Linked DNA regions of Homo sapiens: regions 1 and 2 are each linked to region 3. The links come from fine-mapping of genetic effects on gene expression. A gene starts in region 3. Each other region holds a variant in brackets. All regions are shown on one strand. Distances are between the middles of the regions.

What was found. PIP is the estimated chance that this variant, and not a neighbour inherited with it, causes the effect.
Region 1: its variant is the best candidate, but not a certain one, in a credible set for the expression of POLE4 in tibial artery (GTEx, PIP 0.52).
Region 2: its variant is the best candidate, but not a certain one, in a credible set for the expression of POLE4 in neutrophils (CEDAR, PIP 0.56).

Annotation. Positions count from the first base shown.
Region 1 is chr2:75,155,944-75,164,127 of GRCh38, reverse strand. The region is part of intron 1 of TACR1 (tachykinin receptor 1); the gene reads left to right. TACR1-AS1 (TACR1 antisense RNA 1) reads right to left here. Exons shown (of 4, transcript NR_168010.1): 2 at 7,813-7,924. Among named protein-coding and RNA genes, the nearest start is that of TACR1-AS1, 5.7 kb to the right of the region's middle. The variant C/G (reference allele first, on the strand shown) is at 4,443.
Region 2 is chr2:74,882,054-74,890,237 of GRCh38, reverse strand. It overlaps HK2 (hexokinase 2), which reads right to left. Exons shown (of 18, transcript NM_000189.5): 12 at 7,999-8,118; 13 at 4,649-4,744; 14 at 3,845-3,944; 15 at 3,565-3,748; 16 at 2,180-2,335; 17 at 760-993. Among named protein-coding and RNA genes, the nearest start is that of LINC01291, 23 kb to the left of the region's middle. The variant G/C (reference allele first, on the strand shown) is at 3,576.
Region 3 is chr2:74,953,735-74,961,918 of GRCh38, reverse strand. POLE4 (DNA polymerase epsilon 4, accessory subunit) reads right to left here and starts at 3,276. Exons shown (of 4, transcript NM_019896.4): 1 at 3,027-3,276; 2 at 2,494-2,578; 3 at 1,773-1,814. The coding sequence starts at 3,239. It overlaps LOC105374809 (a long non-coding RNA gene), which reads left to right and starts at 3,040. Exons shown (of 5, transcript NR_187884.1): 1 at 3,040-3,187. RefSeq lists silencers at 2,828-3,067, 3,138-3,397 and enhancers at 2,689-3,189, 3,190-3,690.

The DNA.
Region 1 (8,184 bases), 200 kb before region 3:
TCTTGATCTCCTGACCTCGTGAACCATCCGCCTCGGCCTCCCAAAGTGCTGGGATTACAGTTGTGAACCACTGCACCCGGCCCACTCCTGCTTTCTTAGTTTGTATTTGCTTGATTGTTTTTGTACCTCCATTTGTTTACTTTTTTAGGAGATTTTTTTTTTCAAGACAAGGGTGATAATTTTATATCACTTCATGAAATACTCCAAAGAAATAGAAGAATCATTTTGTGCAAAATATAGACTGGTTAACTAACATGAAGAAACTTAAATGATTCATTTTAAATTTCATTGAATCAAATGACTAAATCCATGAAGAGTAATAATGCAATATTGGGATACAAATCACTCTCTCTCTCCCTTGCTCTCTTCCCTTACTACTAAGACATCTACATTTTTATATTGAATTGATTATTTTCTTCAAAATAAGTCATAAAATACTTCTAATGAAAACAACGTTGAATATCATATTTTTAACACACCTGTGCACCAACTTTGTAGAATAAGTCATTAGGGAAGAAGTTCAGAGTTCACTGTTTCTATTTCAACTTTTTTCTCATTTATCTGATAAAGAGGTACTTTAAAAATTATAAGAAATCTGGCAACATTTACCTTTGCCCTGCCAAGCAATCCATTTAGAATTGCATTTAATAGAATATATGCCTATGAAACACAAAACTTATTATTAAGACTTATGTAAATGCCTTTATTTTAGAGTTTGTACTCTGTGAGTTTGTACTGCTGTGAACTGATTCACATTTTCATTCAAGGCAAATAAATATTCTTAGGTCCTAAAGAACTTGAGCCCAAAAGGAAAGCACAAAAAAGCTTATGTAAGGGTAAAAAAATTGATAAAAGTTGCCATAGACAAACCCTGACTTCTCTAGTTAGCACAGCACTTTGGTGCTTGCTCTCCCAAAGTCTCCTGTGAATCAATGGGGACTCTCCACCATCTGCTGACTCAGGGATCAAATCTCCCTCCATTCTGTGACACTGTCATTTCAACACATGACTTCCAAGTTTGCCATGACTGGGTAAGAGGGAAGTGGAAGTGTCATGTCAGCTCTTAACTGCCTTAGCCAGGAAGTGGCACACATCACTTTCACTCACATTTTGTTGGTTAGACTTATTCATACAGCCTTGCCTAGTTGCAAACGGACTGGGAAGTATAATCTCTTATGGGACCAGGACAGGGAAAATATGAGGTAGGCCCAGTAGTCTCTTCCACGCATGATAAATGCATAGTTCTTCATACTCAAGTATAGCAGATTGTAACTGGGATTCTAGCATGGAATTTTAACAACCTTGAAACATCAACAAAATTTTTGAGTCATCTATCTTTCAATGAAATGGTAATATACAATTAATGTGCAAAAAGATTTTAAGCAGAAAAAAGTGGAATCTTGAGTGTCTCTCAGACAAAAAATACTGCACAAAAAATTGCTAAAAATATCATCATATTGACCTTCAATTACAGGGAACTGTGTTCCTAACCAAGAAAGTCATGAAATATAATTAAGTATGTCTGAGATAAAACAGAACTCAAATAGATCTATTTCCTTTGATACATTTTTCACTTCTAGCTGGAGCTTCTCAGTTTTCACTGGCATGTTTTATTCTAGTCCCAAGGTTCTCTTTCCTAAAATAGAAGAACTAAATATTGTAAACTTTCATATGAAGGCACTGGCACTCTTCCAGTACTATTTGGAGATCCAGAACCATTGGCCATTGGCTAGAATTAGTTAGGGAACAAAACACTGTGTGCCTCTAACACATTTTTTAAAGATTCTGCCATTTTGCTTAAAGAAATATTTAGGTGGGGTAATGAAAGCATGCAATACTTTAGGATGCCTTTGACCTTCATAAATCTGATTATGTAAACTTTTAATTGGATGGCTGTATTCTTTTGAATTTGTAAGTGTCACAGAGCAATAACATTTTATTCTAAAATGCACTTTCAGAACATTCTTTGGCTTCCATTCTGCAAATGGATTTTCAATACGCTCCTGAGTGATATTAATTGGAAGGTTTCCAACATTTCCCCTCCCCCCAACACAGACTCACTTCTTTTTTTTTTTTTTTTTTTTGGAAGAGTCAATACTTGTTAGCATCTCAATTGGTCTCCTCCTTCAATTTTGACAAATTCATCTAATATTCCCTCTGGATTAGTGATTACCTGATACATTCACTGACCTAGACTCAATATTGCCCATCTGTTTCTCTCCACAGAACTGATGAGAAGATATAGCTCAATATCCATAAGCCATATTTGTACACAAGTTTTCCATCTTTTAGTTTGTAACTTTTCCTGAGTAATAGTTTTTTTAGGAAGTCCATATGGTTTTTCACATGCTTCTGACCTTTTAGAGTCATTTTCGTTTCATAAAAGTGTTTTAACCATTAATGTTTCATGTAATAGTGACTATGCTTTGTCTACTTCTGCTTCTATTTTAGGTGATTTGTTGTTCTCTCTACTGTTTTCATTTTTATACCTCCTTTACTATATGGACTATTTTCTTTGACTTTGTTTTGTCTCATGACTTGAAAGTTGCGCATTCTGTTGTTATTTTCCTGGTAGTTTACATTAAAAATAACTTACTTGAAACTATTCTTTTCTTCCTATCAATGCCAAAAATAAAACTGTATTGATTGTACCTCTGTGAAAGATTAACATTTTAGTATGTATTTCTAATTCCCTTTTCTTTTCTCTCACTGTCCCAGTTTTTTATGGAATGTTAACTCATATTCTTACTATTAAATATTATGCTGTATATTTTCTCTTTAAAGAGCTATTTTTGACATTTGTAATAAGCCTCATAATGATATTATAACTATTATTAAGCTTTAATTTTCAATTTAAATGTTTGCAAGATTTGCCATAATTCTTTTAGTAAACAGCTTTCCTTTTTTAATATTCTTCTCAACCGTTTATCCCTAATGTCTTTGAGTAGTGTGGTTTTTGTTTGTTTTGGGGGGTTTGGTTTTTGTTTATTTTTCCAGGAATGGTATTGTGAATATACTTCCTGATCTCTTATATTCATGAGAAGTTCTTTCTGTTACCTTAGCACAACTTAGGTAGACAATTATCACTCTATAAGATTTCTCATGTCATAATTTTGTAAATGTGGCTCTGTTATTTTCTGGCATTATAATAGAAGATTAGAGCCCAGCCTGATATTTTTCCTTTATAGGCAAAATGTTTACCTTCTTGGATGGCTGGTAGAATTCTTTCCTTACCATTGAAATAAGAAAATATATCAGAATATCTCTGGATATGTATCCCCTCTCTCACGTATATTGATTTTGCTTAGTGTAAGCAGATCCCAACTTTTATTCATTAAGGAACTTTTTTTTCGGTTATGTCTTAAATCATTACTTCTGTTCAAATTGGTTAGTTCTCCTGTCCAGGAATCCCTATTTCCCCATTATTTTTTATCTTATTGTTCTTTTCCTTTTCATTGTGGAGCAACTTCTAAAGCTGGTTCTTTCATTTCTAATTTGCTTTTTTGCAATTTACCTGTTCTGATGCTGAATCCGATTTTGTAACTGCATTTTTAACTCTTTCAGAATTGTTTCTCATCTCAATCATTCTTTATTCCTGCCTTTTTGTCCCCAGCAAGTTCCTTTTTATTTCAGCTTCTATTCCTTTGATTTCCAGTCAGAACTGTTCCACAGTGTCCATGTTATGAATAGCTTTTAAAGTCCAAAACTACCATATTTTCTAATTTATTTTGGATTTATTTGCATAACAAATAAATCAAACAAAGATTTATTTGTTATAAATCTTCTTTCAAAACTGTTTTTTTCTGCCTTTTGAGCATTATGTTCCCCTCCTTTTATAATACGTACTCATAATTCATTGTCATCAATTTCATTTTTTTTTCTATTTACTCATTCTTTAATGTGCAAAGGTCTGCTCAGGAGAGATTTTCCTGTAAACTCCCAAAACTCCCAATGTATGTTTTTAATTTTGTTCCCCTGGCTATCCACATAACTGCTGGTACAATTCTTTTCTCTTTTCTCTGCTGGTTCACTTCTCTTATGAACAAGTGTTGTTTGATATTCTTACTTTCCAGCCCATCTTTTGCTGTCTTAAAGTCTTGTATGTAGTGTGAATATATTGCCATGGGGAGATATCCAGTCCCACTGCCTATCTTTTCATGAGTGGTATTGATTCCTGTAGAGTCAGACCTTCTTCCCAATTCTTTATGTGCCTGATCCAGCGAATGGTACCTCTATTGACATGTAGTAAATGCTCGGTAAATAGTTTCTCCAGGATTCAATATAACTCCCAGAATGCACTACGACTCTGTCAGACTCAGCTCTTTTTAACTGCCACCCAGACCCTCTAGGTATAAGCACTCCTAGTCACACAACATTTTATGGGTAATTGTAGCCTCAAGCCAGTGCAAGAAAACAGTAACTAATATTAGGGAAAGTGTGGT[C/G]AAAATGGCTCTATTATTCTAGAAGTCAAATTGGGGCTAGCTTTCCTTTCTCTGCTGGGAAGACTCCATGTTTCTAAGGAAAGTACCTAGAGTGGGCATAGCTTTATTGACTAAAAAAAGATGGTAACCCTTATCTTTTTTCCTGCCTGTAACTTCCTCAGAACTTTGGCTAGTGGAAATTCTTCCTGTTTCCTGGCATATCACTGAGGAATTCTCGGAGTTTCCAGTTTTACAGAAACTAGTTTCTCTTTGTTTTTTCTTAGTTATATCACAGGAAGTTGGGGAGAGAAAAATCAGAATTTATTAGATTTTTAAATAAAAAGATAATACAATTAATTCATAATTATTTACATTTAACTGAGTTCTGTACTTACCAGTAGCCTCCTTTTCACATGTCTTTCTTATCTAAATTCTTTACTTTGGTTTGTGTTTCGGTTGGCTTGAGTATTTAACACTTTAAATAACGTAACTGAGGAGGGCTTGTGTTCAGGATATACTTTCTGAACCTTTACAGACCTAAAATTAGTTGCCAGCCAAGCTGGACTAAAAATCAGGTCCCCTACAAAATTAGCTACTTTGGCCTTTCCTACAAAATTAGCTACATTGTTTATCTCTCTAAAACATTAAAAAAAAAAGGTACCAATAAAAAATTATTTTACCAGGTAGTGGTTGTAGTAAGAATTAAATGAGATAATACTTCTAAAGCACTTAACACAACAGTCTTCCAAAGTTGGTACAATTACTAGCTCCATTTACAGATGAAGAAGCAGATGCTCGAGGTTGAGATAACTTGCTGGAAGCTGCACAGCTGGTTGGTGGCAGAGCCAGGCCTGGGACATGGGACCGTTTGAGTTCGGAACAGAGGCCCAACTCCAGCTAAATCACCACATTGCAAGCATCTCACCCAACCACCCATTCCTCTCTTTTCAGTTCTGCTTCCTTTGCGATGCTGGGCATATTGATTTGAGGAATACTCAGCTTTCAGGTCCCAGCTGCCAAATTAGATTATGTTGCAAACATTCAGCTGTCTCCCTATGCAACATCACATATTCAGCAGGCATTTCAACAAAAATTAATTGATGAAAATATATGGCAATCACCCAGAGCTGATAAAAACAACTTTTAACCCTGCTGCTAACTACTAACAGATTCTAAGGTTAGAACTTTGCCTGAGGCCTGCGATAGAGCACTCTTCCCCCAGGACCATTTTAATTTTTGCTGTTTATCAAAATAAATACATATTTTTTGATATTTTAGAAAATAGATGTCCTATTGCTGCCTTTTATAATAATCCCTCTTATTAAGCCAGACACTGGGAATACATAATATGCATTTTCTGCCTGGGAAAAAGGCAGAGAGCAAGGGAAAGTTAATAAGCTGTGGAAATCTCTCCATGTCCACTTGGTCAAATTAAAATTCTACTGATTACATAGTTGCCTAGAGTAATGCTTTTCCGATAAATGCTCGATCTTCGTCCATAGGAAGATCTCAGGAGACATTTACCCGAAGTGAATCAGATCCAAAGATAGTAAAAAGTGTTGGAGGACCCAGTTGGGTCATAGTTGGAGTCTTGTATTCTCTTTGCCCTTAACCATCTCTATGATCTTTGATGCATTCTTCACACAGCTAGGTTTCCATTTCTCAGTCTTAAAATAAGGTTTAGACCTAACCTATGAGGTAATAATGAGAATTTCCCAAACTCATGTGTGCATATGCAAGTTTCTTGAGAAACAGGCTCTAAACTAAAGCTCTTTTTGGTGGGGACTTGGACTCAGATTCTCTTACTTCCCTGTCTCTAGGTAGAAACACTGCAAATTGTTTTGCTGCTGTAAATTCTCTTTCAATAATCAGAAGATTTTCTTTCAGTCTATTTCCCACATCTTCCTGATAATGGCCAGTAGGCAGAACTGAAAGAACAGAATGAAATATTTGAATTGCTTAAAACCCACATCTCCCTGAATAAGATTAATACATGTATCAGGTTTTATTTCTTCTTCTTTTTTATAGAGGAACAGTTCCATCTAGTGTAAGGACAGGGCACTCCTCTTCCTGACTTCAACCCTTAGGTGGGGGATGTTCCCAGTGAGTATTTGTCACAGTCCTGGCCCCAGGCTATTTCAGGGCTGCCTGGCCACTTACCTGCCCCTTCTTTGACACATTGTTTGTGAACAGGTGGAGGAACAAGGTGGGTACAATCCCCCTTCTTAACTCTTAACAATGCAAGCTCTGATTTTCCTATGTCAAATCCTGTCTTCGTAGGTCGTTATGATGCTTGTTTGTCAGGACCTGAGTCCTCTCTTTTGGGAGAGTAGGAAAGAGAAGCTTGAGTACCTACCCAAAGTCACTGGGTAAGCCTTGCTTCCATAGGTGGGTGAGGAGGACTACAGTGGGCAGATGGTAGTAAGGAAAATGAAAGGAAAGGGAATTTGTTTAGACTTGGAGGAGAAGGGTCTAGCTTTCCTCCAAGTCTCAGTTACCAGTTTGCTCCACGGTGGTGCCTTTCCTTCTTCATCCTCCTCCTTATCAATCCCCCAACCCCTGCCCTGCCACTACCACAGACCTGAATACAAGCTGATGAGATAATCCCTTCTAGCCTCTGTTTCTGAAAACCATTGATCCAGGTCAGCAGCTGGAATGCATGGGAGACATGAGTCCTTTGGAGAAATGGATGGAGCACCCAGCCCCGACTCCCATCTCCATCATGGGAGGAGAAGAGCTGTCAGCTTCATAGTGCTGAGCATTCTTTCTCATTCTCTTAGTCATTTTAATGGAAATGCAGTGTATCCCTACATTTCACTATCTCTTTACTTCATTTAGAAGAAAACTAGACACTAATGAGCATACCCAAATCCAATGTAGAAAGACAGATTGAAACAGGGGTTGGTAAACTTTGTATGAAAGACCAGTATATTCATTTCCTAGGGCTGCTATAACAAATTACCACAAACTGGGTGGCTTGAAACAAAAGAAAATTATTTTCTCACTGTTATGTAGACCAGAAGTCCAAAATCGAGGTGTTGGAAGGGCTGTGCTGCCTCCAGACACTCTTGGGTAGAATTCTTTCTTTTTTTTTTTTTTTTTTTGAGACGGAGTCTCGCTCTGTTACCCAGGCTGGAGGGCAGTGGCATGATCTCCACTCACTGCAAGCTCTGCCTCCCAGGTTCACACCATTCTCCTGCCTCAGCCTCCTGAGTAGCTGGGACCACAGGGGCCTGCCACCATGCCCGGCTAATTTTTTTTTTTTTTTTTTTGTATTTTTGGTAAGGATGGTCTCGGTCTCCTGACCTTGTGATCCGCCCGCCCTGGCCTCCCAAAGTGCTGGGATTACAGGCATGAGCCACCGCGCCCGGCCTCTTGGGTAAATTCTTACCTGCCATTTCCAGCTTCTGGTGGTTCCAGAGGTTCCTTGGCTTGTGGCTGCATAATTCCAGTCTCCACTTGTTGTGACATGGCCTTGTCCTCTGTATGTCTCTTCTCCTCTTCTATCGCTTACAAGAATACTTGTTATCATATCGAGGACCCACCACAATAATTTGTATGCACAATATGATATTTGTCACACTATTCAACTCTGTGTTATAGCACAAAAGCAGCCATAGACAATATGTAAACAAATAGTGTGACTGTGTTCCAGGATATCTTAACTTATGGACACTGAAATTTGAATTTCATAGAATTTTTACTTGTGAAATAGTCTTCTTTTTATTTTTTTCAATCATTTAAAAATGTAAAAATTGTTCTT
Region 2 (8,184 bases), 72 kb after region 3:
TGCCCCAATACAGCAGGGTCAGGACACCCTCCCCATCTACAAAGCTGAGGATGCCATGTCCCAGGGTTGGTGGCTGGGCTTCTGCCCCCTCCCAATCCTCATGAAACTATATGTACAATAACAGCCTGTGGCTGTTGCCTGTCAACCCCTGCTCTAGAATGTTGAAAAAAAATCTTGCTCCAGAGTTCTAGCATTACATTTGCCAGAATGTTCACAGTAGCACTGTTTGTAATGGTCAAAATCTAGAAGTAACCTAAATATCACCTCAACGATAGAAAAAACAACATACTCAAAGGTACGCTATACAGCTCTGAAAATTAATGAACTACCAACTGTATACTTCAATGCGGATGCGTCTCAAAACAAACACTGTGTGAGAAAAGCCAGCCACAGAAGAGATACCATGTGATTCTATTTGTGGCAAGTTCAAAAATAAGTAAAACTAAACAATATGGATGCATACCTACATATATGGGGGTGGAAAAGAAAAGCAAGGGACTGATTCAGCACAACACTTACCCCTGGCATGGGAGAATGATGACACAGTTGTGGAGGGGCTCGGAGGGGGCTTCCCACGGTGGGGGGTGAAACACAGGCCTACTTCTGATTATGAATCTTTAAACTATAATCCATGTATTATATACACTATTTGGAATGGCTGATAATTCACTATAAAGTAACAAAGGAAAGAGAGAAAGAAAAGGGAAAGAACAAAGACAGAAAGAAGGTAGGCAGGGGGGGCTGGGATCAGGCACTCACTGAGGATGTAGCTTGTAGAGGGTCCCATCCACACCCACTGTCACTTTGAGAGCGTCCAGCCCACGGTTTTCTCGTATCCTGTCCACCACAGCGGCCATGCCTGCGCCACAGAGCTGGGCTGCCCGCCGGGCCACCACAGTGCACACCTCCTTAACAATGATGCTGTCGTCACAGGTGCTCTCAAGCCCTAAGTGTTGCAGGATGGCTCGGACTTGCAGCAGGGCCAGGCAGTCACTGGGGTGGGAGGGAGACAGCAAGTGTTCAGTCATGCACCAAGAAGGCTGGTAGCCTACCACACCAGGGCCTGAGTCCTTACAGGGGAGGCTCTGTGGGGGTCTAGCTCTCCAGGAGCTGGCCCCTCGAGGTGGTTCCCATTCCTAAATTCAGACCACTGCTCAACCTACTGCACTGCATTGACTCTTCCTGACGGTGACAGGAATACAAACAGCTCCTCATTCTACTCTCCCTACTCCAGATAGACCATTACTACTACAAAGTAGATACTCAAAACAAAGCAAATTCACTGTTTATCACAGTGGTCAGTTACAAAGCTCTTTCATGTCCATTTTCTCGCTGCTGTTCATGGGTTTGCAGGGCAGGAACTAACCAAGCAGCATTAGACTCGTGCTTTATTTCTGCTCTGCTGCTCTGGGTGGTCTGAACTGTATTTATATGCTATTTACGAAGGAAGTGTAAATAAAGTTATAGAAAGAAAATAAACCCTCCTATATAAAGAAAGCTATTTTAGAAGCCTGGAATCACCTCGCTGAACATAACAGACCTATAAGCTAGAATATATCTTTCTATTCACTGGTGCAGATGCCCGAGGGGTCTACTCACATCAGTTGTCTAGTTCCTGTTCTTCTCTGCCCTGAGAGTAATGGCACAGCATTAATTTTTAAAGGGCTCTGAAATTCACTGTTCTAATTTGGAGATTTTCCACCATTTGACTGTAGGAGGGAGGCTTTGCTCTAATGAGCCACTGTGTGGCATGTGTCTGCATTGCCTGACGTTCCAACCTTTACTCAATCCTGGCTGCCTGATTACTGCAGCCAGCAGTTAGGAAGGGCTTTCAAGCCAAGTGTGGATGCTTTAATAGGTTATCTTCCTCTGTGCGTTTCAATTTACATGCTATGAGCAGGTATCTTTCTACCTTTGATACATGGTCTAAAACCCAACAATATCACTTTGCATGACCTCAGGCCAGGCTTAGCACAAACTTTCATGAGAATGCTCTGTTTGCCCTTAAAATGACAACTGCCCATAATGTGCTTTTAGTAAACACTATAGACATGAATGTGTTTGCCACTAAACTGACTTTTGTATGAGTCATGCCCTGAGTTATGGAAATCCTTCAGTTTGTCTGCCAGTGAGAAAAAAGGACATGGCCCCCCTGCTACCCTGAGCCCTAAGCTCTCACCTCTCAATCTGAGACAAGAACTTGGTTTCAAAGATGCCCCTTGTCTTGAGCCGCTCTGAGATGCGGCCTCGGAAGAGTAGTCCACGCTTGGTGAAATCGATGAGAATGTTACGGACAATCTCACCCAGGTACATTCCACTGATCATTTTCTCGAACCTGCAATGCAAGTAACATTCATGGAGGTTAAGTAGGAAGGTGGAGGGATGTGTTGAGACAGGACAGGCCAGCTTAGTCACCCCCAGTGCATCAGCAGTGGCAGACAGGCAGACTCCCCTGATGGGAAAGGAATTGCTACTTGATTCACTTGGGCAGGATCCCTGGTGTCTTTGCATGCTAATTCACAACCTTCAGCAACACTGACCACAGTGCCCGAGGCCCGTGGGGCTCCTGGGGAAATAAGCCTTGGAAAGGAACCCACAGGGAAAGGAACTCATTTCCTTTCCAAGGCTTATTTCGAAATTTCAAGAAGCAACTCGAGAAGGAACACACCATAACCCCACTGGACTTCTCGGAGCAGGGGAGAATGCTGAGTCTTAATCTTTAACCTCACTAGGCATTCAGTATACATTCTCTTGGACCTAACCATCATTACTCAAGTAACTACTGCCAGCTGTAGGGCCCCCATCCTGGCCACTGGAACTAAACGTTATTATGCAGTGGCTTGAGGGTCTTTTGGTCCTGAATCCTGCCTTGAAAAAAAAACGAGGTCCCTAGTTTCAACCAATAGCCCATCACCACCCCATCTTATCTTGACCCAGCCTGCTTCCTTCATTAATGTTGCCTGCCTGGCCCCTAGAGGCATTTTAGTCTGTAACTTCTATTCTAGACACATGTTTTGCAAAGCGTATTCTGCAGGACTAGGGTGTTTGATTAATCTAGTTAGGAAACACTACAGACAACATCTTAATGAGAAGTGTGTTAGATCTTAAGCTATTGTCTCTTAGCTCAGACCCCGCTCCCCTACCATGCACAGGACCTTGTGACACTGGGGCTGGCCCCTTGCTCAATTCTGACAGTAGGTGGTGCTCGGCGCTGGAAGATGGAGGAGGGAGAGGATTTGCTCCTGTCTGCATCACCCAAGAGATGCTCTTCAGCCTGTCAGCAGCAGGTGCTTCAACTTTCTACTTGTTTCTCCTTAGAGTGCCAGACCTAGGGTCTAGTATTCTCCCACCTGTTCTCCTAGGCTTTTGGGTGGGAGATGCTTCTTACATTTACTAACTCAGAACTTTCCAGGTGCATTCGACAAGAAACCCTTTCCAAGAAAACCTCCTTTATTAACATCTCACGAGAACCGGCGTCCTGGGAGATGCCATTGTGGAAGCTCTGATCACTTGTTGCCATCCAGTCCTGGGATACACTTAACAGGGCCCCAGTTGGGTGCCTACCTCTGCTTGCC[G/C]GGGTTGAGTGAAAGCTCATCCACAGCCACATCAAATTCTGTGCGGAAGTCATCTAGGCATCCATTGTCCCCGAAGGCCCCCCATTCCATGTTCACACACATCCGCCCCTCTTCTCCTTCCACCAGTTCCACGTTGCGCATCTCCTCCATGTAGCAGGCATTGCTGCCCGTGCCTGCCAATCACAGGATACCAGGGCCTCACTCAGCACCAACCCCTCCACACCCAAGGCTGTGCATCCCCATGTGGAAAGGACAGTCTGGGTCCTTACCAACAATGAGGCCAACTTCACAGTGAGGGTCTTCAAAGCCACAGGTCATCATAGTTCCGACTGTGTCGTTCACCACAGCAACCACATCCAGGTCAAACTCCTGAGAGGGAAGAAGCAGATGCCCAGTTCACAGGTGAACCCCAATATTCTCCTTTCAGACAATTGCATGGGAGATTTACAGGTATATAAAATATATATCATACACCATGGCTGACCCTCTCATTCCATTCAGGTCTGTGCTTAAATGTCACCTCTTTGGTGAGACCCTCCCAAGTTGTGCTATTTAACAGTGCCCCTTTCCAGCACACTTGCTCCATCTGCTCTCCTCACCCCACTTCACTCCTTTTCTTTCTTTTTTTTTTTTAAACTCTATATGGTCTAAAAAGGGAAGGCATGAATAATACACCCCTTGTTTAGCATATAATCAAGAAATAACCATAAAAATGTGCAACCAGCAGCCCTCATGGCTGTTTTGCTTATGGAGTGGCCATTCTTTTATTCCTTTACTGTGTGTGTGTGTGTGTGTGTGTGTGTGTGTGTGTGTGTGTTTCACAGCTCTTAACAGCACCTGCCACTAGGTCATGGACTTTATAGAACAAAGCTTTGTTGTGGTCACTCCTGAACCGCCAGTGCTGAGAGCATTGCTTGACACACAGTGCACACTAAACTGCTGAACGACGCTTGAGTTAATCTTCCTCCCAACCCATGCAGCCACACTTACTGTTGCCTTCACTTTCTGAACACACAGACCAGGCCAATCATTGAGGAGCTGACACATCAGACCTCGTGCCATGTGTCTCCTACCTCTCGCCGGTGGATCGCTTCCTTCAGCAGGGTCACCACGTCCTCGCCCTCGCAGCCAGATGCCTTGAAGCCTTTTGTCCACTTGAGGAGGATGCTCTAAAAATCACACACAAGCATGGAAAGGACATCAGGGAAGAGCTCCCAGGTCAGTTCTGGGGGTCCAGCTGTGCTTCTAGCTCTCAACCTCACAGGTCAGACGGATCCCCCAGAGTCACCAATCATCTCACCCGCAAATTAAACTGTTCCTAAGGTACTTACTTGGATTTATTGAGCACCTACTGTGTAGCAGGTACTGGGCTAAGCATAGATCATGCATTACATTATTTAACCCTCACAGCACCCTTGTGGAACATCTATCATGTTTATGGCCACTTTATAAGAAACTGAGGCTCTGGAGTGACTTGCTCAAGGCCTACAGCTTGGAAGAGAGAAGCAGGATGCACTCCGAGGCCCTCCGACCCCAGTGAATGGGCTCATAAGCACCACGCAGCTGACCCTGCTGTGCAACTTCTTCCTATGTGCTTGGTTCGCTCACTGGGCAAAGCAGTTTGCTCTGTCCCTATCCTTTACATCAGAAGGGTCAGTGTATGTCTCCTAATTTTCAAACTCCAGCATCTGGCGAACAAGTGCTTTGCCCACAGCTGGGTGACAGCTAGGCTTCACCACCACCCCATGTCTTTCAGTGAGGAAAACAACTCCAGGCTCCTCCTCAGCATCCTCAGTGGCCCCTTGCCTTCAATGTGGTCCTCTGGGAGCAGATGCTTGACGGCTTTGAACCTGGGAGAAATGCTTTGGGTTTTATTCCCTGATGCCCTCTCTGCTGCCACAGCCCACCAGGAAACAAGCCTCAGGGCTTCAGACTCCTTACCCAAGAGCTCGGCTTCCATAAATGAGCTGTGTGCTCATAACCCACCCACTTGCATGATTTCTCCAGGCCTTGCTCAGGGATTCATGCCCATCAGCTTGGCATTTCATTCACATCAACCTGGAGGTGTCACACTGTGTTCAGACCCCAGGAGATTCAGAAAAACAAAGCACATACCCTCAGAGAGCTGGCTGACCAGTGTGTGCTGATCTCCACCCAGCTCTCTACAAGTTAGCTTCACATGTTTGACGCAAGTTTGTGTTTACGGGATGTTCAAATAACATAATTTCAGGTGATCCTTACTGATGAGGCAAGTGGAGGCCCAACAGCTGGGAAACACAGCTGGGGGCCACAGAGCCCTGGGGTCTCTAACCCCAGGGGCCTCTGCACTGGTGGGATTTCCCCATCACAGGAGGGTCTTGCCAGAGCCCACAGGAAGAAATGACTTCTGCTTTATTTGCTCTTAATTTTTACGGCTCTAGACCTAACACGTGCTCCTCAGAGAAACCTGGAACACAGAATAAAACCTAATCCAATGGCCTGGAATCTCACAATTCAGACAGAAACAGTTAACACACATTCTGGTTTCCCTGGCAAATATATAAATAAATATATAACCTGTTGGCATGAAAAGTTAAGATAGTATCTACTTGAAAATATTTTGGTAGGAAGTCTAGAAGAAGGATATACACTGGAGGGTTATGCTTTTATCATCCCATTAATTGTATTTTATGTTTTTTTATAAAGAGATTACCATTTCTAAAGAAAAGTAGTTTTAAAACTTTTTAGTCATATCACCAGTAATTTTTCATGTGATTAAAATTTATTACAAATAACTAGTGGCTGATACTAGCTAATAAGTGGGTCATAATTTATTTAACTACTATCTCACTATTCAGCAAGTTTGTTTCTAATATCTTTGTTATAATAAGTAATGGTCCATTAAATAGTACATAAGAATTTGTCCACATGAGGCATAAAGCAACGCTAGTCTGGTTAACACTACATGAATGTTAATAGGTGTTGAGAAATGCCAGACTAAGCTGAGTTTTTATTGCAGAACTTCCTAAAACCTTAATTATACTAGTGCACATGGGGAATTCTCTCAGATAAGGAGGAGAAGGAGGCATCTACAAAACTCAGTGAAGCCAAGGTGAGGGCCACTGTTGCAGGGACCCTGTGGGAAATGCTGCTCTTTCCTTGTCACTAGGGTAGGCTCTTCTGCGCTGGCCCAGCTCTTTCTGTCACTTGCTCCCACCTACATGACCCTCTCCACAATGGGCAGCCTGCTCACCTTTCTTTCCCATCAACTCATTCTTCTGACTTGTTCCAAGTCCTCCTGACATCCCCCAGGTATGCACTCGGATTAACATCTGTCTCACTACCTGTCCTGGGGGCTTCAGTATCCATCCCACGAGGGCCACATTCCAAACAGCAGCTCTTCCTTTTCTGAGCTTGCTTCATCAGCCCAGCTTGTTTGTAAGCATCTAAAGGTAGGAGCCATGCCTTTTATACCTAGCAGTGGCATGTGCAACATACCACACACCGGCAGCGTGCACGTGCACTCCTACATGACTGAGACAGAGACACAACTGCTTAAAAACAGTCTCCAGATACCTAATGCTTAGGGCTACCAGTCATCAGCAGATCCAGCACTGCCTACTCAGTTCTCCTCCACTTCTCGGGGCACTCATGTCCAGAACATCTGGGAGTGCCAGATCCTCATGCACCTACTTCATTCACCCAAGGTAACCTGAAGAGGAGTGAGAAGCAAGATGAGACCAGAGAAGAGCCAGGGCATCCAAACAACAGGATATGGCATGAAAATGCCCTGAGCCCATAACAAGGGCCTCAGGAGCCCCACAGCATAACTGACAGCACAGGCTCAGGCATCAGGAACCCAGAATCCAAATCTTGGCTTGGCCAGTCCCAAGCTATTATGACCTGGAGCAAGACACCCAGCACCTCTGTGGGGCTTATCTTCCTTTCTGTAGAATGGGTATTCAAACATATCTCTTATATGGTTGCTGTGAGGGTTAAACGAGATAATGCAGGTAAGAAACCTAACATAGTACCTGGCACACAGTAAGTGCTTAAAAATGCTATATATATATATATAAGTTCAATAGAGATGGGGTCTTCCTATGTTGCCTAGGCTAGTCTTGAAATCCTGGCCTCAAGTAATCCTCCTGCCTCAGCCTCCCAAAGTGCTGAGATTACAGGTATGAGTCACCACACCCGGCAGTTGTTAACATTGAGTAGCATCATCATCGTTGTCCCAAAGGCTGTCACAGCTGAGCTAACCTACTTAACCTCCACCAGCCTCAACTTACTCATTCCCATCAAGGAGCCCCTCCCCACTACTGGTAACTCACGCCCTCCTTTCCTTAGTCTTAGCTCAACTTTCTCCCCTGCTCCATACCTGGCTGGTTTTGTTTAGAGTCAATAAAGCCCACAGGAGAGCCCTCCAGGAAGGTGCTGTTACCTCGTCCAGGCTGTTCTGCTGGCAGGGGAAGGAGAAGGTAAAACCCAGAGGCAGGGACACGCCCTTCATGCCCATGTACTCGAGGAAGTCCGCGATGCACTGGACAATGTGGTCAAAGAGCTGCAGGGAGAAGTTAGGACACTGAGGGAGGGGCCCTGGGCAGGGCAGGCTGCCCCCAGTAGGGCC
Region 3 (8,184 bases):
AAATGTATTTACTTAGACCATACACACCTAAGGACATAAGAACATTTATTTTACCCAGTAAAAAATAATATAATGCAGACTGAATCCACAGGGGCTATGATGGCTAACATTCAGATCTACCAATGTAGGACAGAGCAAAGGGATTCAATTACAGAGATAAATGAGGATGAAGGCAGAGGATGAAAATAAACACACCAATCATTCAATAAATGGCCATTTATTAAAAATCCAAGCTAAGCACTATGCTGTGATAGAGGCTAGAGTGGAAAACTACATAAGACCACCCCACTTCTATTCCTAGTACCCTCCAGTTTATTTTCCCCAGGGCAGCAATGTTGTGCACTTAAAATACAAATCTGATCATATCACTCATGTCTTTGAAAAGCTGGTAATTAAAAATGAAGAGGTAAAGTAGGCTCCAAACATTTTTGACTGCAGAACTTACAGAAAGTCTGTCACAAGGAGTGCCTGCCTTAGGTAGGACTAACAAAAGTTAATTTTAAGAAAAATGAGTAGGTGGAAAGAGAGGCTGAAGAAAAATCTGCAAATTAAAAGAATGCTCAATAGTCTAGACATAGAGTTGGCCATGGTAGTCTATCTATCTAATAAGACATTTAAAAAATATCTATCAAAAGGACCAGGGGCCTAGGTTGACAGGGAGATGCAGAACAAAGGAGTAAAAAAGAGTGGAATAAATCAAGATATTTCTAAAGGTAATAAGGCTTGAAGGAGGTAATGAGAACACCCTGGGAGAATAAGGATACATGGCTTTTGCTAAGCTATTCAATCAAAATACATGTGTCGCTCAACAACAAGGATACATCCTGAGAAATGCATCACATCTTCAGGCGATTTCACCACTGTGTGAACACCATAGAGGGTACTTACACAAAGCTAGATGGTATAGCCTACTACACACTTAGTCTACAGGGTATACCTATTGTTGTCAGGTTACAAACCTGAACAGCATGTTACTGTACTGAATACTGTAGGCAACTGTAACATGAGGATAAGTGTATTTAAACAAATCTAAACATAGAAAAGGTAATGTATTTCATTAGGATGTTATGACCACTACCTCACTGGGCAAAAGGAATTTTTCAGCTCCATTATAATCTGATGGGACCACCCTCATGTGAGCAGTCCATGGCTGACCAAAAAGTTATTACGCAGCACATGACTACATACGTGTAGTGAAGAGTAAGCTGATCAGACTGAAGAATTAAGTAGCAGAAATCGCTCTGAGGCTAGGTAGCTAAAATTAGGTATTTCAAATATTTTCTTTTTTAATGACAAAATTTAGTTAGTACACAAGTTAATCCATGACTCCTAAAAATACAGACAAGTACAAGTCTTATTGCAGCAAAATAATCACTTCACACAGATTGTTGAAGAAAAAAGAACAAGCGGTGACCCTTTAAATGTTAACAATTGTTTCTGATCTGTAACATGATGAGGGGGGGCAAGCCTGACATTTAGGGATGGCGATCAAAGTAGGAATCGAACTTTCGAATTCATCTAACTCCACTGGGATCTTTATATTCCCTCCTATTTCTTTATGGTTAGCAATTTTCAGGTAGAAATTTTAATTCCCCAAGGGAGAAAACTGAACCTCACTAGGTTTAGCAAGTTACTTTTTTCTATCCTAATAGCAAGTGCGGAGAATTATCCCTACACAAACAAGAAGCAGGCATCCGTTTTATGAGATTTTGAATTTCACATCAACATGCAAAAGACAGGCGGAAATGATTGCCCACTGAGAGGGAACTCACCTTCCAGAAAAGCAAATTCATCCACAGCTTCTATTGCATTATCTGAAACACAAGGAAAAGAGACACCTGACTAACTTCAGCCATGCTGACCTCAGTCAGAAAACAGCACAATCTGCAGTGAAGGGCATGAGGCTTTGGGCAAATGAGGGCATTTATAAGATGCGTCCCTTGCTGCCTTGAGATCCATATCTACTCTACCAGCAACTCTTATATATATTAGCTGTCTCCCTAGAAGAGTTAAGAAAAGCATAGGCAAATACCATTCAACGCGGGGGTTGGGGGCCTCCTAAATTACCCCTAAATTATTTATTCGCTTTGCTCTTAAAGTTGTCAGAGAAGAACGTGGCAATAGACGCAGGGCGCATGAGAATACGGTATACGAAATCTTACCCAGGTGAGGGTTCCCAGCCAGACAAGAGTCAGAAATCAAATCCCCAGTTGCTAGGTGAAAAAGAAATATCTTTTTCTGGTGCAATTTGGCAGAAGGTATGAAGGGATCCAGTCCGCTACGGCAACCCCAGACACCTTCACACACTGCCCCGCCACCCCAAGCAGACAGCCTCTACAGGTAGGGCTTCCTGGCACTGTGGCCAACAGAAACCATCCTGGGGAGAGACGCTGTGGCACCTCTCAGATCAGAGTGACGTCTTCTCAACCTGCACAAGGGGAAACCAGCCCAGCCCTCCCTTGTCTGTCCCCAGACACTGCAGTGCCACTCTACCCAAGTCTCTCCTCTGAAGGGTTTTCCTTTTTCCCTGCTGAGCGCAACAGTAGGCATCTTTTGCAATGGTCTCCACAAACAGTTCCTGTGAAGTAAAAAAGCAAAGTTTTAGTAATGGGTTCTAACACACTGAGGAGGTGAGGGCTCCGGTTTGTGGGTGGGGGCAGAAAGGGAGAAGAAAGGCTCGGGGCAAGAAAATGTTCTGGAAGCTAAGATTGTCCTGGACTTCATGAAGATCCATTCCGCTACCCTCTTCCCAGTATTCTCCCTCATTCACTAAAGACTCCTACAAGTTCTGTACGAGGCCCTGGAGATACAAATTAAAGTCACTCACTATCCAGGTCCTCAACAAGAGGGAGGAGTGTTAACAAAACTCGCACAGGTCCCCGGCCCCTTTCCTCCGCCTTCCGGGTCCACGCCCACATCTCAAAACCCGGGCCACGCCGCCCTAAGCCCCGCCCGCGGGAGGCCCCGAGGCCCCGCCCCACACTCCACCTCCCCCACTCCCGCATGCCCTCGCGCTGCAGGCGCACCGCGGCTCGTGCCAGAATGAAGATGGCTTCCTGTCCCGCTAGCGTCACGTCGGGATCTGCCTTCACCAAGGCCTTCACTCGCGCCAGAGGCAACCTCGAGAGACGAGCCCCAGGCACACTCGTTGGGGCCTGGGGCTGCGAGGCCGCTGCCTCCCCAGCAGGTCCCTCCTCCTCTCGGGGCGTCCCGCTTCCTGCCGCCGCCGCCGCCGCCATCCCGGCCTTGAGCGTGCTGCGCGCGGCCGCCGACTGTGCGCGCGCATGCGGCGCAGGCCCTTTCCCGCGCGGGCTGGAGGCCACACCCTGTGTAGGCGCGCGGCTCCGCCCCTACGCGGCAGTGCGCTGCCAGGAAACCGGGTGGGCGGGGGTCGGGCTCCGGCTCTTCCCACGCGCCTAGCCACCCGTGGGCTGTCGTGCACTTGGTTGACGCTACCGGCGACCCTCTGGCCCCGACGGGCCTGTGGAGCCCAGGCACCTCCCATTGGTGCCTGTGCCTGGCTGGTGAGGGGAGAAATCTAGACCAGGCTCGCAAGAGAGTCTCCGTCAAAACAGAGTGTGCATATTCCAAGGCTAACGAGGGCACGTGTCCGAGGGAGGCCCGGCCCTGGAGGGCCCAGCATCGTGGAAGAGGGTGCCAAGGAGGCAGCGAAATCTGGACCAAATTCAAGGATAACCAGTTATAGATGCTCTTGAAGGAGGGGTAGGGCTTTTGGCAGGCAGAAATGAAGAAATTCAGCCCAGCCAGAGGAAACAAGAAAAAGTCATGGAGGCTAGAAAAGATGAAATTGTGGTGGTGAGGCATCCACGTTTGTTCAAAAAGAGGTTGCATCACAGCTTTGGTTCTCAAATTTGACCTCAAGATCCCTTTACGGTCTTAAAGATTGTTAAAGAGCCCAGGGAGCTTTTGTTTCTGTCAGTTATATCAATACTTACTATATTAGAATTAAAGTTTTAAAATATTGATTTAAAATTACTAATGCGTTACCAGCTAACAAACAACATTTTTATGACAAGTAATTTTTTTTAAATCTAGTAAGAAAAGTCTCTAATGTCTGATTTCATGTGAGAACTGGATTCTCTAGCTGCTTCTGTTGCTAACGTTAGCACTTCTCAGGTAGCTCTTAAAAAACTACTACATCTTGAGAGAATGTGAATGAAAAAGGCAACCTCATAGTAGTATTAAGAAAATAATTTTGGCCTCATGGACTCCTGAAAAGGGTCTCCAGAAAATTCCCACCCCCATGAATCCCCACACCACACTTGGAGGTCTGATAGCGTAGAGGAACAGTTAATATTTAAAATAGGTTTAATCTAAGTCAATCATAATAATAGTGAACACCTTTAAACATTTACTATGTGCATGATTCAAAGTGTTTTAGATTTATGTAAATCATAACTTCTGTAATTTTCACAATACCCTATTGAGGTAAATATTATAACCTTCTTTTTCAAACCTTATTTGAAAAAATTGAGGTGCAGAGTGGTTACTGAGTCGCATACACAGGGCAGAATGTGGTGAAGCCAAGATGAAGCTGAATTAAACACATCTGAAATCACTCAGTTCCAAAATTATGTAGTAAACTCTGACTGGTGTAGGAGTGGAAAGGTGTGAAACCTTTCTTTACCCATTTTAAGGGTCACAGCTGACACTCCTATAACACACACAAAAAGCCTAACAAGTCTAATCAAAGTTTTACATGACATGAGAGTCCAAAAATGCAGACCATGAGACCTAGAGGAAACTATTTTTATGCTTAGGTTATATGAAGAAGGGATCGCTGTGTAGAAATGTGATTAGAGGCCTGGTACGGTGGGTCACACTTGTAATCCCAACACTTTGGGAAGCCAAGGCAGGAGGACCGCCTGAGCCCAGGAGTTTGAGACCAGCCTGGGCAACAGATGGAGACCCCATTTCTACACACACACACACACACACACACACACACACACACACACACACAAATTAGCTGGGTATTGTGATCCTATAGTCCTAGCTACTTGGGAGGCTGAGGTGGGAGAGTTGCTTGAGCCCAGGAGTTCAAGGTTACAGTGAGCAATGATTGCACCACTGCACTCCAGCCTGGGCGACAGAGAGAGACCCTGTGTCTTAAAAAGAAAAAGAAATGGGATTGGACAAAAAGGGAATGATAATAGTCTAATGGTAATAGACTGAATGGGGAAACCCAGCAAGGCCTGTCTGTTCATATTCTTCTTGGCCTCCCTGTGTAGCATTCCTTCTGGTATTAGGGCAGGACCCTTCTGGAATGAGGGTCTTCAAGGGAGAAGGCAGAAAATAACCTTTCTAGGTTTTACGACTTGCTTGGAGGAAGGAGAATTCTAGTTTCTATGACCTGCGTTGGGAAAGAGGAATTCTGGTTTCCATGACTCACTGCGAAGAGTGGTGATGTTACAGTGGGTAGCTAGTCAGACACGAACAGGGCAGGATAGGGCCCCCACGCTCCACCAGGAATGTCAGAAGATCATCAGGTGATGGTCAGACAGTGGTCACACCGCCTCTCTAAAATAATAATTGCTCATAGCCAGCGCCAGGGAAAGGCAGTTTCCCTATAGATAGAAAAACCCTGAAACTGATGATCAGGAGCTTCCTGATGAGATCTCAGGAGTTGGGCGAGCGGGCTCACGCATGCACACTAAGAGGCAAAATGGTGGAATTTAACTGATATATGACCTTCTGGGGGCATTCTACTGAAAAAGGGAAGAACGCCTCAGGTGAGCATGCTTACAACTTCAATAAATACACTGCACTTGCTCCCCTCCCCAGCGCTAGCAGGCTACTGTGCATTTCGACAACCCACCCCAAGGGAAGAATCAGGGTAGAAGGGATGCAAGACCCCAGAAGTATGCCAACACATAAAAACCCAAGTCAAAAGGTCAAACCTTGCACTTGTCCTTCAAGTCACCCACTTGGGCCTCTTCTCAGTGTACTTTCCTTCCTTTCGTTCTTGCTCTAAAGCTTTTTAAGAAATTTTCACTCCTGCTTTAAAACTTGCCTCAGTCTCTTCTTTTGCCTTATGCCCCTCAGTCGACATCTTCTGAGGAGACAAGAATCGAGGTTGCTGCAATTTGCTGCCAGTAACTGTAATAACTTCTACTGCTTACAGTGGAAAACAGGACAGGAGAAGTTCAGAAAGACCTTGCTTCTGAGGCCTTTCCAATTTTCTTCAGTTCAAAGTACTCAGCATTCCAAAGTACCATACTTTGGGGTATCATGTAATGAGCCCCAACCCTGAATTAGCACAGAGACACTCCACTATAGCAGAATAAGAGTCTTGGCCCAGAATTAAAATCTGCAGAAGAGGATATGAGTTGCTGAAAATTGAACCAGAGCAGCCATTAGGGCCTCAGTCCTGGGTTCTTTTCAGATTACATTTATGGACACTCTCACTCATGGAAAGCTCCACACAAAATTCATAAAAGCATGACCAGATTCTTGTGTCACAGTGCACAAGAACACCTCACAAGAGCTATACTCCAGCAATCGCAAAGTAGCTAAGTACTAAATTGACCTAAATTCTGAATTAACATAAGACAGTTGACAATGGTGGGGGTGTTACTGGACCCCACCACTTACCCAAAGTTAGCCTTTGGGTCAGGGGTTTCCTTGCTAGAGTCCTTTCGTGGTCACCAGAAAAATGTTACAGGAAAGGGGTTCTGATCCAGACCCCAAGCGAGAGTTCTTGAATCTCACACAAGAAAGAATTCAGGGCAAGTCCATAAAGTAAAGTGAAAGCAAGTTTATTAGGAAAGTAAAGGAATAAAAGAATGGTTGCTCCATTGGCTGGGCAGCCCTGAGGGCTGCTGGTTGCCCATTTTTGTGGTTATTTCTTGATTATCTGCTAAACAAGGGGTGGATTATTCATGTCTCCCCTTTTAAGACCATATAGGATAACTTCCTGATGTTGCCCTGGCATTTGTAAACTGTCATGGTGCTTGTGGGAGTGTAGCAGTGAGGACGACCAGAGGTCACTCTCCTGGCCATCTTGGTTTTGGTGGTAAGTTTTAGCTGGCTTCTTTACTGCAAACTGTTTTATCAGCAAGGTCTTTATGACCTGTATTTCGTGCCAACCTCCTATCTCATCCGCTGACTTAGAATGCCCTAACCATCTTGGAATGCAGCCCAGTAGGTCTCAGCCTCATTTTGCCCAGCTCCTATTCAAGATGGAGTTGCTCTGGTTCACACACCTTTAACGGGCAGGAGGAGTTAAGAGTTCTTGAAAGGGCTGAGTCAACTTGGCTTTCAGAGGATTCTCATTTCAACCCCCTTTTCTTCCCAATTTTGTCTCATTCATATGTTCCCTGCCTTTCCTCCTTTTCTCCTTTTTTGTTCCCCTTCGTGTTCTTTTTTTTTTCTTTTCTTTTCTTTTCCTCATCACTTGAATGTCTCACCACTTGGTGCAGTCCTTCTCTCCCTGGTTTGACTATGACTAACCAAGAGTTTATGGAGACCAGACAGGACTTCCTGACTATAAGTATTGAACAGCACTAAGGTGTGTTAGAAAGGGAAATCACGTTTCACAGTTTTTGAGTTTCAGTGGAAAAAAGGCAGAAGAAACAGGAAGACGAAGGTTGAAAAGCTCAAAAAGCCACACACGCACACACGGTTCGCATTCCAGTCCAAATAGAATGAAGGCTAAAAATATCTTTAAAAGGCTACGTGATGAAAATTAATGCAAAAAAAACATGATGTGTGTTAAGTGAAGTTTGGCCTAAAGCTGTCTCTTTACATAGTTTAAGTTTGGCCTAAAGGTTTCTTCATATGTAGAGAAATGCAAGGTAACTTGATGTGAAAACGGTCACTTACTCTTGTAAGAAATAGCCAAGTTTCAGCCAATTACAGGCAGCCAGCTGCTCAAACCAGGTTCAAACCAGGTTCAAATAAGGCAAACATCAAGCTGTAACCGTTCCAGCTATTTCTGTACCTCACTTCCATTTTCTGGACATCATTTTCCTTGTTATCCTACCATGCGGCAGGCCTAAAATCACACTGAATCTATTCTGGTTCTGGGGGCTGCCTGATTCGAGAATCATTTTTTGCTCAGTTAAACTCTGTAAAATTTAACTTGTCTAAAGTTTTCTTTTAACTTGTGAAGTATTTTATCTAATAAGCTAAAGATTAAAGACAGCTTGCCATCTACCATAC